Homo sapiens: one gene and its partner. The protein of the gene in region 1 purifies or fractionates together with the protein of each later gene. This does not show direct contact. Each region holds a gene or a part of one and is shown in the gene's direction. Other genes may lie near its edges.

The links. Proteins that work in one complex are often made in the same cells at the same time.
Region 2: the proteins of VASH1 (region 1) and RAB6B purify together in Homo sapiens (affinity purification with mass spectrometry; one large-scale study listed by BioGRID and IntAct). This does not show direct contact.

Annotation. Positions count from the first base shown.
Region 1 is NC_000014.9:76,759,387-76,764,907, forward strand, and holds the start of VASH1 (tubulinyl-Tyr carboxypeptidase 1), read left to right. Parts: upstream 1-2,081; 5' UTR 2,082-3,435; coding exon 3,436-3,744; intron 3,745-4,172; exon of another isoform or gene 4,173-4,257; intron 4,258-5,521. UniProt on the Homo sapiens protein: Tyrosine carboxypeptidase that removes the C-terminal tyrosine residue of alpha-tubulin, thereby regulating microtubule dynamics and function.
Region 2 is NC_000003.12:133,885,096-133,889,914, reverse strand, and holds part of RAB6B (ras-related protein Rab-6B), read left to right. Parts: intron 1-4,249; exon of another isoform or gene 4,250-4,349; coding exon of another isoform or gene 4,350-4,380; intron 4,381-4,819. UniProt on the Homo sapiens protein: The small GTPases Rab are key regulators of intracellular membrane trafficking, from the formation of transport vesicles to their fusion with membranes. Rabs cycle between active GTP-bound and inactive GDP-bound states.

The DNA of each region.
Region 1 (5,521 bases):
CTCCACTAGTAGGCCATAAGTCCAACTAGAGCAAAGGCCATGTCCCTCTTGTTCACTACTGCTTCTCCAGTGCCCAGTACAGAGTCAAACACATAGAAGATGTTCTATGAGTACTTACTCTTTGAATGAATACCCTACATCTATTTTATTTGTCATTTCAGAAAACACATGGTATTATCTCATGCTGCGTAACAAGTTAGTCCAAAACTTAGCAGCTTAAAACGAGAATAGTCACTTATCCTCTCTCAATTTCTGTGGGACAGAAAGTCAGACAGGGCACAGCAGGGCTGGTTGTTCTCTGCTCCATGTCTGGGACCTCAACTCTAAGACTTAAAGGCCGAGGGCTGGCAAGACCTGAAGTCTCGGTTTGCCATGATCTGGTGATTGACTCTGGCTGTTGGCTGAGAGCCCAGCAGCAGCTGTCAGCGAGAACACCCTCATGTGGCCTCACCATGTGGCTTGGGCTTCTTCACAACATGGTAGCTGGTTTCTTCTGAGGAACCAAGAAGAAGCTGTCTCCTTTTTATGGCCTGGTCTTAAGAGTCATACAGCTTCACTTTCATCACACTTTATTCATTAGACACCAGTCACCAAGTACATCCCACATTCAGGGGGAAAGGAATTAGATCCCATCTTTTGAAAAGAATGGTCAAGAGCTTGCAAGCCAATTTTAAAACCAGCACCACTTGGCTAACACAAGAAGCAATGTATAGAGTGAAAAACAAGTGTCTGAAGAAGTAAGACTTCTGTTCACATTCTAGCTCTGCCACTTACTAGCTGTGTGAGTTTGGGGAAATTACCCTCTGAGACTTGGTTTATACAATACAGGGTGATAGTTGTTGATCCCTAGTGATTTTTCTACGCTTGGAGTCTTCTTGCCTTAGTGAGTTTAAGAAGATCCAGGCTGAACTAACTTTCTTGGAGTCTTGCAATCCTTCCCATCACTGATAACCCTTGGTTTCTGACCCTGGAGGTAGTAAGAGGTTGCTACGGGAGCACAGGGTACCCAGAAAGTTCAGATACTAGGGACAGCTTTAGAGAACAGATGTGAAACCACTGAGGCCCTGGGGTCTCTCTAAGGCCTTTAACCCAGCCCTTGTGTAGTAACCTCAGCTTGTCAAGAAATGCAACGACCCCACAACTAAGGAATCTGAATCTGCCGGCTAAGGCCAAGGAATCTGCATTCTCCCACAAGACTGTGATTCATGCTAACTACAGGCAGGGGAGAGGGGGAGCATCTTAAAGCACACACTCGGCCGTCTCTTCCTAAAGTTCTTGGCTTCAGCCTAGAGATAGTGCCTTTCCCACCATTTACAACTCTATGGCATGAGGGAGGCGGAGGGTGCGTCCAGTGTCCAACCACGCACCACAGCTGGTTGTACTTTCACCTTCCTCTAGGCCAGCGGACCCTCCCCAAGCATTGCCTCCCACGCCCACGTCGCGGTCCCACCCTGGTCCGCGGGGTCCAGAGCGTCCAAAGCCCGGTCTAGGCAGATGGTCTAGGGGTGAGCTCTGCGCACCCCATTCCCACCAGTGCAGGCAATCGAATAAAACAGGGTGACTTTTAACCCTTTTCGTTTCCAGAGATAGTGACCCCCCGTCTCAATCCCTAGATGTCCTCCTCTAAGAACTGTGCGCGCTGGGAGGGACTCTGCGCTCACTCACTGTGACCACCTCGGCTGGGATATGGGGAAACTGAGGCCTACAGAGGGAAGGGAACTGCTGAACGTCCCAAAGCAACACAGGCACTGAATCCGGTCTAGAATCCCAGTCTTCCAGGCCAGTGCTCTCGGTCCTACCGGCTCAGGGCCCCTGCGAAGAATCTTTTTCAAGAAATTCCCGACCGCAGGAATTCCTTCTGCGCTAGGAATCTCCATGGAGTTTGCGCTCCCTCTGGCACGTTGAAAACGTCCTCCGCAGCTTCGCACCGGCTTCGCGGCGCCCTGACAGCTGGGTGAGGAGGGAGCGAATGCCCACCGGCGTCCTTGGGGTAACTTGGGACAGAGGCACCGCCGCGGGGGGCGGAGGACTGGGCGCGAAGGCGCTGGCCCTTTAAGGGGGGGACGGAGCGCATGCGCGGCGCGGGCCGTAGTCGAGCCTGGTGGGCGGCTGGCTGGCAGGGGACGTGGTCGGCGGCAGCGGGGCCCAGGGGCGGCGGGGCTGCAGCAGCGGCGGCCCCAGCTTCGCCGAGCAGCGATCGGCTGGTGGGCTTCTCGTTGGCGGGCTCCGCGTTGGCGGGCTGCTCCCCAGGCACCAGCGCAGCGCGCGCTCGCCCGGCTTCGTCACTCGCCTCCAGCTACATCCGCCGGCCGAGGCTGCGCGAGCCTCCGGGCTTGCGGTCCCCGCCCCGCGGTCCTTCCTCCACCCTCAGCCAGGGCAGCTGCAGCCCGAGCGAACAGCCACGGAGCATCCTCCGCCCGCCCGGGCCGCGCCACCGCCCATGCTGCAGCCAGTCCCAGGCAGCGACCCCGCGGCCGCAGCCCGCCGCTCAGTGACCTCAGCCTGGCCCCTGCGCGCCGCCCGAGCCGGTCCCGCTGAGCCGCGGGCCCCGTGCCCTGCGATGGCTCGGCTGGTGCAGCGCGGCGCCAGGTGCCAGCCGTCCTCCCGCTGAGACGCGCCCGAGTGGGGACCCGCTGGGCCTCGGGGCTCGCAGCCTTCGCCTCCCCGCCGCGCCCGCTCCCTTTCTGGGGACTCCGCCGCTGTTTCTGGGGACGAGGGGACAGGGGACCCAGACAAAGCCCACTTTGTGCAGGGAGTTGGCCGCAGGCGGGGAATGTGCGCGTCGGCGCGCGCCCCCTCCCCGCTCCCGGCCAGCTGCGAGTCTTGGCTCCCGGACTTGTCTCGTCGCGTCGGAGAAATCGCCCCCCAGCGCCGCTCTCCCGCCCGGGGGTCTTGGTTCCGAGCTCGCGCGGCCGGGAGTCGCCTCGGTCTTCCTTGGGGCGCGCGCAGATGTGAGCGTGCGAGAGTTGTGTAGGGGATTTTGTTCCCTCCGAAACTGAGACCCAGGGCGCCCAGTGGGCACCCGTGCCTTGACTCTGTCCTTTCTGCAGCCGCTGGTCCGAGCTGTCTGGCCTCAGTTTCCCTCCGACTTTTCTCCGCTCTGCCAGCCCTCACTGCTGCCCGTCATTGTTCTCGCAGTTAGATGGGGGTGCTTTGTGACGGCTGCCAAGTTGGGGTGTGTTCTCTTTATTCCGTTTTTCAAACAGAACAAGGCCTCCAAGGCTGACCCCAGACAACCCACCCCCTCGGACCCTAATTCACCTTATTGCACTGATTTTTTTTATCAAGTCGTATTTTATTGTACAGGAGCCACGCCCTGATTTCTTAAAGGCGCCTTGCACTCTGGCCATGTGTTATCTCTGCAGCCGGTGTGTGGGAGGCCTCTTGTGAGCCAGTTGTTTTCCCGCCTCCACCACCCCCCTCGAAGATTTAGGGATGCCAGGGGGGAAGAAGGTGGCTGGGGGTGGCAGCAGCGGTGCCACTCCAACGTCCGCTGCGGCCACCGCCCCCTCTGGGGTCAGGCGTTTGGAGACCAGCGAAGGAACCTCAGCCCAGAGAGATGAGGAGCCAGAAGAGGAAGGGGAAGAGGACCTGCGAGACGGAGGCGTCCCCTTCTTTGTCAACCGGGGTGGGCTACCTGTGGATGAGGCCACCTGGGAAAGGATGTGGAAACACGTGGCCAAGATCCACCCCGATGGAGAGAAGGTGGCGCAACGGATCCGTGGGGCCACAGACCTGCCCAAGGTGAGACACACGGGTCAGGGGGGTGATAGCACAGTCTAGGTTTTAGTGACCTTGGGGCCAAGAGTGAAGCCACACTCTCCTCCCACGGGGCAGGGGACCACTGGCTCGGTAAGATCTTTAAAATGCAGTGATATCATACCTGTCTAGGAGAACTTTCTCTCACTGCCATTCTAGGAGGGAGGCTCACATACATTGTCTCCAGGAGGCCCTCCCCGCTGTCTTTTAAAATGTCCACGTTTTACAGGAGGGGACAGCAGCAGATGGAACTAACAAACACAGTAGGATGGCTTGACGTCTCATTTGCTTGATGACACTTGCCAAGCCAGAGAACTGTGAGCAGACAAATGTAATGAATGACTAAGGAGATGCAGGGCTTCATATGTTGAGAAAATATTTTCGTGCATTATGTCATTGAATTCTCCCAACAGCCTTGTGACGTAAGTACAGTTTGGATTCCCATTTTACAGATGAGAAAGCTGAAAACTCAAGTAGGAACTCAAGATCCCACAGCCAGTAAGTGGCAGAACTGAGATTCAATTTCAGGTCTTCAGGAGAAGGGCGGGGGGTGGTGGTGGAGGGAAGTGTCCAGGTCCTCTTCTCTGTTGGACAGTAGATTCAAGCACATTAGAAGAGGTCTTATGGAGAAGCATAAAATGAAATAATTTTTCTGTGTTGGCTGTAACTCCTCCTCCATGACAGCTATACTTCAGTTGTGTCACCAACGAAAACAGAGGCTGTATCTCATTCATCTTTGTCTTCCCAAGGCCTCCTGTGTGCCTGGCACAGAACAGGCACTAGTGTGTGTGTTTGCTGAATGAAAGGGTATTTGAGAGTTTCTGTGCTGTACGCTGCTATATGGAAATACATGCCAGATATTAAAAAAAAAAAAAACATGATCAAGACTAGGAGGCACTTTGCCAAATGCAGAGGCCTGAAATCTCCAAAAAAGAGCCCTTTGGACTGAGTTCAGAGCCCAGTGCTTAGCCCTGCCTGCCCAGGTTGGAAGGAAGGGGGCTAGGAAGAATGGAAGTTAGTGTGAATTAGACATGAGGACAAGTGGCCCGTTTTGTTTTTACCAAGTTATTGGTACAGCCATCAGAAAGTGTCTTCTGGGAAAAAGAGAATCAAAGGTTGAAGGTTTAAATACTGCCTAATGTTTCCAGGGGAAACAAAATGTAGATTGATTTGGAATGGCCGCATAAATGTGCTCTGCACTGACTTAATATTTATTTAGCTAATCCCCTAGAGTTGGATGTTGTTTCCAGTTTTATTCCTAAAATGAATACTATGGTGAACATTCTAAAATATAAATTTTGGGGTTCATCTCTGATTATTTCCTTGGGAAAAATTCTGAAAGCGAAAGTATTGCGTCAAAGGATATTGACATTGGTAGGGGTCACCTGCTTATCTATATGGCCTCTTCCACCTATTTGAGATGCAGTTTTCTTATCAATAAGATGAGGTTGATTGTGGGGAAGAAATGAGAGACTGTGTGTTAAAGTATTTAACAAACTGTAAAGCCCCAAACCAGTACCTGGTTATTGGATATCAGTTACCTTTTTTTTTTTTTTTTGAGATGGAGTCTCACTCTTTCCACCAGGCTGGAGTGCAGTGGCATGATCTTGGCTCACTGCAGCCTCCACCTCCCTGGTTCAAGTGATTCTCCTGCCTCAGCCTCCTGAGTATCTGGGATTGTAGGCACCTACCACCACACCTGGCTAATTTTTGTATTTTTGGTAGAGATGGGGTTTCATTTTCAACATTTTGGCCAGGCTGG
Region 2 (4,819 bases), on another chromosome or scaffold:
TTAATCTGATGATGCATAGCAAGAGAACTTGCCAGCAAAGAAAAAAGAAACTTAGAATATGTTCTGGCTGCGTAGATGTAATAATAATTACTGTCTTTTGCATGATCTGATGATCATTATCATTTGCAGCCCCCAGATTATAATGAATCACATTAAATTATAACAAAATAAGGCTGGGCGTGGTGGCTTACGCCTGTAATCCCAGCACTTTGGGAGACCAAGGTGGCAAGGTGGGTAGATCACTTGAGGTCAGGAGTTCGAGACCAGCCTGGCCAACGTGGCAAAATCCTGTCTCTACTAAGAAGTACAAACATTAGCCAGGCATGGTGGCGCATGCCTATAATCCCAGCTACTTGGGAACCTGAGGCAGGAGAATCGCTTGAACCCGGGAGGCGGAGGTTTCAGTGAGCCGAGATGGCACCACTGCACTCCACCCTGGGCAACAGAGCAAAACTCCATCCCAAAATAAATATATATATATATATATATATATATATATATATATATATATATATATATATATATAACAAAATAACCTTATTGTCCTTTTGTTCCTTATTCTATCCCTAAAATCAGTCTATGACTATCTTTATAGATGTTGCCCCGACATTGCAAACTTTGCAGACTGGCCGGGGCCAGGCCCAAGGGTGGTAACATTTGTATCCCATCCAGGCTGCAGATTTCCCCTGTCCTCCCCACCCAAGTCGTCCATTGTTGCCGAATGCATCGGCCATTGAATGTGTAGGGCTGTCTGGTTTCAGTGTGGTTAACTTTGGGAAATTATTGGACAGAACCACTGGGGAAGGTGACAGAAGGCTAGGTAGAACAGCAGAATTCATAAACATTCAGGGTGGACTACCGGGAAAGCTGATGGGCATTTTCTCTGCGTCTGCCATTCTTTTCCATTTCTCACCACAGGGAAGAGAAGCCGAGGGAGCTCTGGTGGAGGTTGCCAGGGAGAAGTACCAGACACGCCCTGAAATGGACAGCTTTTGTTAGGGTGGAAAGACAGGCTGCCAGGAAATGGGGCTCCAAGCAGGGCCTGGGGACTGGAAGCCCCTGGGAACTTGGAATGCCAGTCCAGTCTTTGTTTCCTAGAACAAGGGAAGGAAAAGATGAAGACTCACAACTCTTAAGGACTCCTAGGATGTTCTTTACCATATCTTGGGGCTTGAGATTTCAAAATTGTTTTCATTATTTTCATAACTTTTGCCCTAAACAAAGTAAGATCTTTTTAAAAAATATTGACTGATATACATAATTTAGCATTTTAATAAAGTGATTTATTTTTTGTAGAAAAACTTATTTATTCTGATCTCTTGGTAACAAGGCCAGAGGGAGCCCAGGTGACCAGATCACATGCTCTGGGCCAGCCATCACCTGTCCCAAGGGGCTGACATACCTAAGGGACAGGCCCAAGTCCTGAGGAGGCAGATGTTACCTCACCCCTGAGGGCAGAATAGAGCTTTCAAAGCAAAGGTTACTTCCAGGAAATGCATAAAAAGAATGGCAGCCTGTGTCCTTCCTCACATGAGTTCACTCACGTGGCATTTATTGAACATCCACTATGCCGGAGGCTCCACACAGGGCACTTTTTATCTTCCCAGCCACCCTGTGACGGATGTGGGATCATCCCTGTTTTGTGGGTCAGGAGGCAGAGGCTCAGAGAGAGCTGGCCCTGCCCAAGGACTCACTGTGAGTGTGGCAGAATTAGAATTCAGACCCAGGTCACTGTGAGAAACACAGTGGACTATCAGACCTCTTGCCTCAAAGGCAGCTTCTGGCCTAGGACTGGAGCGGAGGAGACAGAAGAACACTGAGGTCTTCTGGACACGAGGTCTGCTGTGCATGACTCGTGGGGAGTGTTTGTGCCAAGCTCTTTGCTAAAGAGGAACCTGCGGGGCCCTGAGCAGGGAGGAGGGAAGCAGGGTCTCCGTGTGGGAGCTGCTGGAGCTGGTCTTGCACAGCAGGCACCCTGTTCTTCCATTTGTGGTGCTTTGAAGGGAGTTGATAGAGCCTATGGGGGCAGCTAAATCCCTCCCAAGTCAGCCCTCAGCCCACTGCCATGGTTCTAGCTGAGAACTAATTACTAACCAGGGAAGAACCAATTAAACTAAATGGCTGGTTCCCACCTACTCTGGGGTAACCCTTTCCTGGCCACATCCTCCCTTCTGGCTTGGAGATACCAGGGCCCTGAAGACCCTGATTCTATTCCCGGTCTGTCACTGGCTGGCTGTATGTTGGATAAGCCCCAGCCCATCTCTGGCTTTCTCCGTGTATCCCCTCAAGGCTACTGGGCTGGGTGACCCCTTGGGCCAGTGGAGCTCTAACTCTGGTTCTGCAATTCAGTGCCAGCTCTGAGTATGAGGCCAAGCCAATAACACTCCCAGCCTGGAGACAAGCATGCTGCTGGTGAGAGGGGCTGCAGGAGTGAGATGGGGGATCAGGGGCTCTGCGACTGTTGCCCCCAGAACTGTCCTGGGTCCCACATGCAGGATCTTCTCCAGCCTACCACCTCCTCTCCTGGGAGGCATTCCTGGCCCCCTACACCTGAGTGCAACCCTCCCTGGGGGCACAATGTGGGGGAGGGGCATGCTGGCTCCCTTCTTCTGAAGATGTGCTTGGCTCTGGTTGCCAAGCAACAAGGATGGGGCTATCCTGCACTTCTGCTTCCAGGAGGTGTGTCTTCCACACAGAGAGGAACCATGATTAGGACGACAGGGCAGGTGACACCTCCCAGGTGCTCCTAGCCCAGGGGCACCCCTTTCCACAGCCTGGTGGGAGGGGTAAGCTGGGAGGGCAGGGAAAGGACAGAGCCAAGAGGGGTATATGGTGTCCCCAGCAGACCTAGGAGGGCTTAGAGACCCGGCCCCAGCCCCAGCTCCCACCCCCACCCCATCACCATATTGGTCCTCCTGCATCCTGGGCTTCCACCTCAGCCCACCCCTCTGCTGAATGGATGGTGTTGGTGTGCAATGGCACCACCTGTGCTCATTTTCCTCACCTGTGCAGGAAGTTGATCATTACCTTGTTGGGGTTCCAGGAAGATCAAGTACATCTATACATGGCATGTGATTAAGGCTCACATGATAAAAGCTCAGGTGATAGGTAATTTTGTTAATGAAATAGTAACAGCAATCTCCATCTCCTCCCTCATTGCAGAAGTAGGGTGCGAGATTTTGAGAATCATTGATCATTTCTGTATTGTGAACTGTGGGGTCTACATCCTCGTGATCTGGCAGGAAGAGCTGCTCATCCCATTTTATAAAGAAAGCGAAGGTCTGCCAGGTGAAGGCTTTTACACAGATGGAAGGACCCTTTGACTCCCTGGCCAGTGTTTTCCCCAGCTCCCCATCCCTGCTCAGAGACAGGCTGGCAAAAAGTGGGACAGACTCACCATGCCTGCTCCTCTGGGGCCACCAAACCTGCTCAGGGGAAGAGTACCTCATCTTCACAGCTCCGTTACTTCCTGTAAGGAGCTCAGCCAGGGTGGAGTATAAGGGCAGAGGCTTTGCAGCATTGGGGTTATATGCCTTCAGATGTGTGAGGTCGGTAGTACTTGGCCCACAATAAGCAGGCAACAAATCTCAGCCAGTATTAAGATTAGTATTACATACACAAGCAAGGCTATGGGCGTGATGTGCTTGGAGGAGTCAGGGAAGGCTTTCTGGAGGAGGTTTTGCATAGTGAGCAGGAACTCACCAGCAAAGAAGGGGAGGCACTGAGGGCAGAGGGCCTGACCATGCCCAGGCAGTGAAAGGCTTGGGGTTTCTGGGGAATCGGGTGTGGTTCAGGGTGGTGGGATTCTGGTGCGGGTGGAGAAATAGTGGGGGAGAAGGGGTTGAGCCTGGGGGAGTCAGTAGGGTCAGGCCCTGGAGGACCTCCCTGCAGGCAGTGGGGATCCACTGGGGAGTTTTGACCCAGAGGGACATGCTCATGGATTAGAAGGTGAAGGCAGAATGTGTTCTGATTGGAGGCAGGAGATCCAGGTGGCTGAACTAGGTCAGAACAGAAACGTTCCGAGGATGGAATTTATAGAGAGGGCTTGTAAACTTAAGCTTCCTTCCAGTTCTGAAGCTCAGCTCCACTGCAGATGTATATTTTCTTGATTCTTTCTCTTAGAATGAGGCCTCAGGAACAATGAAGGATTGTAGGGGAGGGACTATTGTCTCTCTCTGCAAGGCCACACTGTACGCAGATGGACCAAAGCTAGCCCCTTTAAGCTCCCCTGTCCATCCTATCTCCACAGTGCCCTGGGTTCCCTGACTGCTCTGGCCTTCCATGGGTGTTCTGCGGGACTGCTGGCAGCCCTTCCGGACTCCTCCCTCTCTGCTACCTGCTCAGGTTGGATGTGGCATATGACCAGAAACTGGCCATTGGGTGTGTGAGCTCCCCTATCCTCTGGTCATTGGATGTGTGAGTCCCCCATCCTCTGGTCATTGGGTGTGTAAGTCCTCTGTCCTCTGGTCACTGGGTATGTGAGTTCCCGTCCTCTGATCATTAGTGTGTGAGCAGCCCATCCTCTGGCCATTGGATGTGTGAGTCCCCCGTCCTCTGGTCATTGGGTGTGTGAGTCCCCCGTCCTCTGGTCATTAGGTGTGTGAGTCCCCTATACTCTGGTCATTGGGTATGTGAGCCCTCCCTCCTCTGGTCATTGGGTGTGTGAGTTCCCGTCCTCTAATCATTAGTGTGCGAGCAGCCCATCCTCTGGCTGTTGGATGTGTGAGCCCCTTGTCCTCTGATCATTGGTGTGTGAGCAGCCCATCCTCTAGCCATTGGATGTGTGAGTTCCCCATCCTCTGGTCATTGGGTGTGTGAG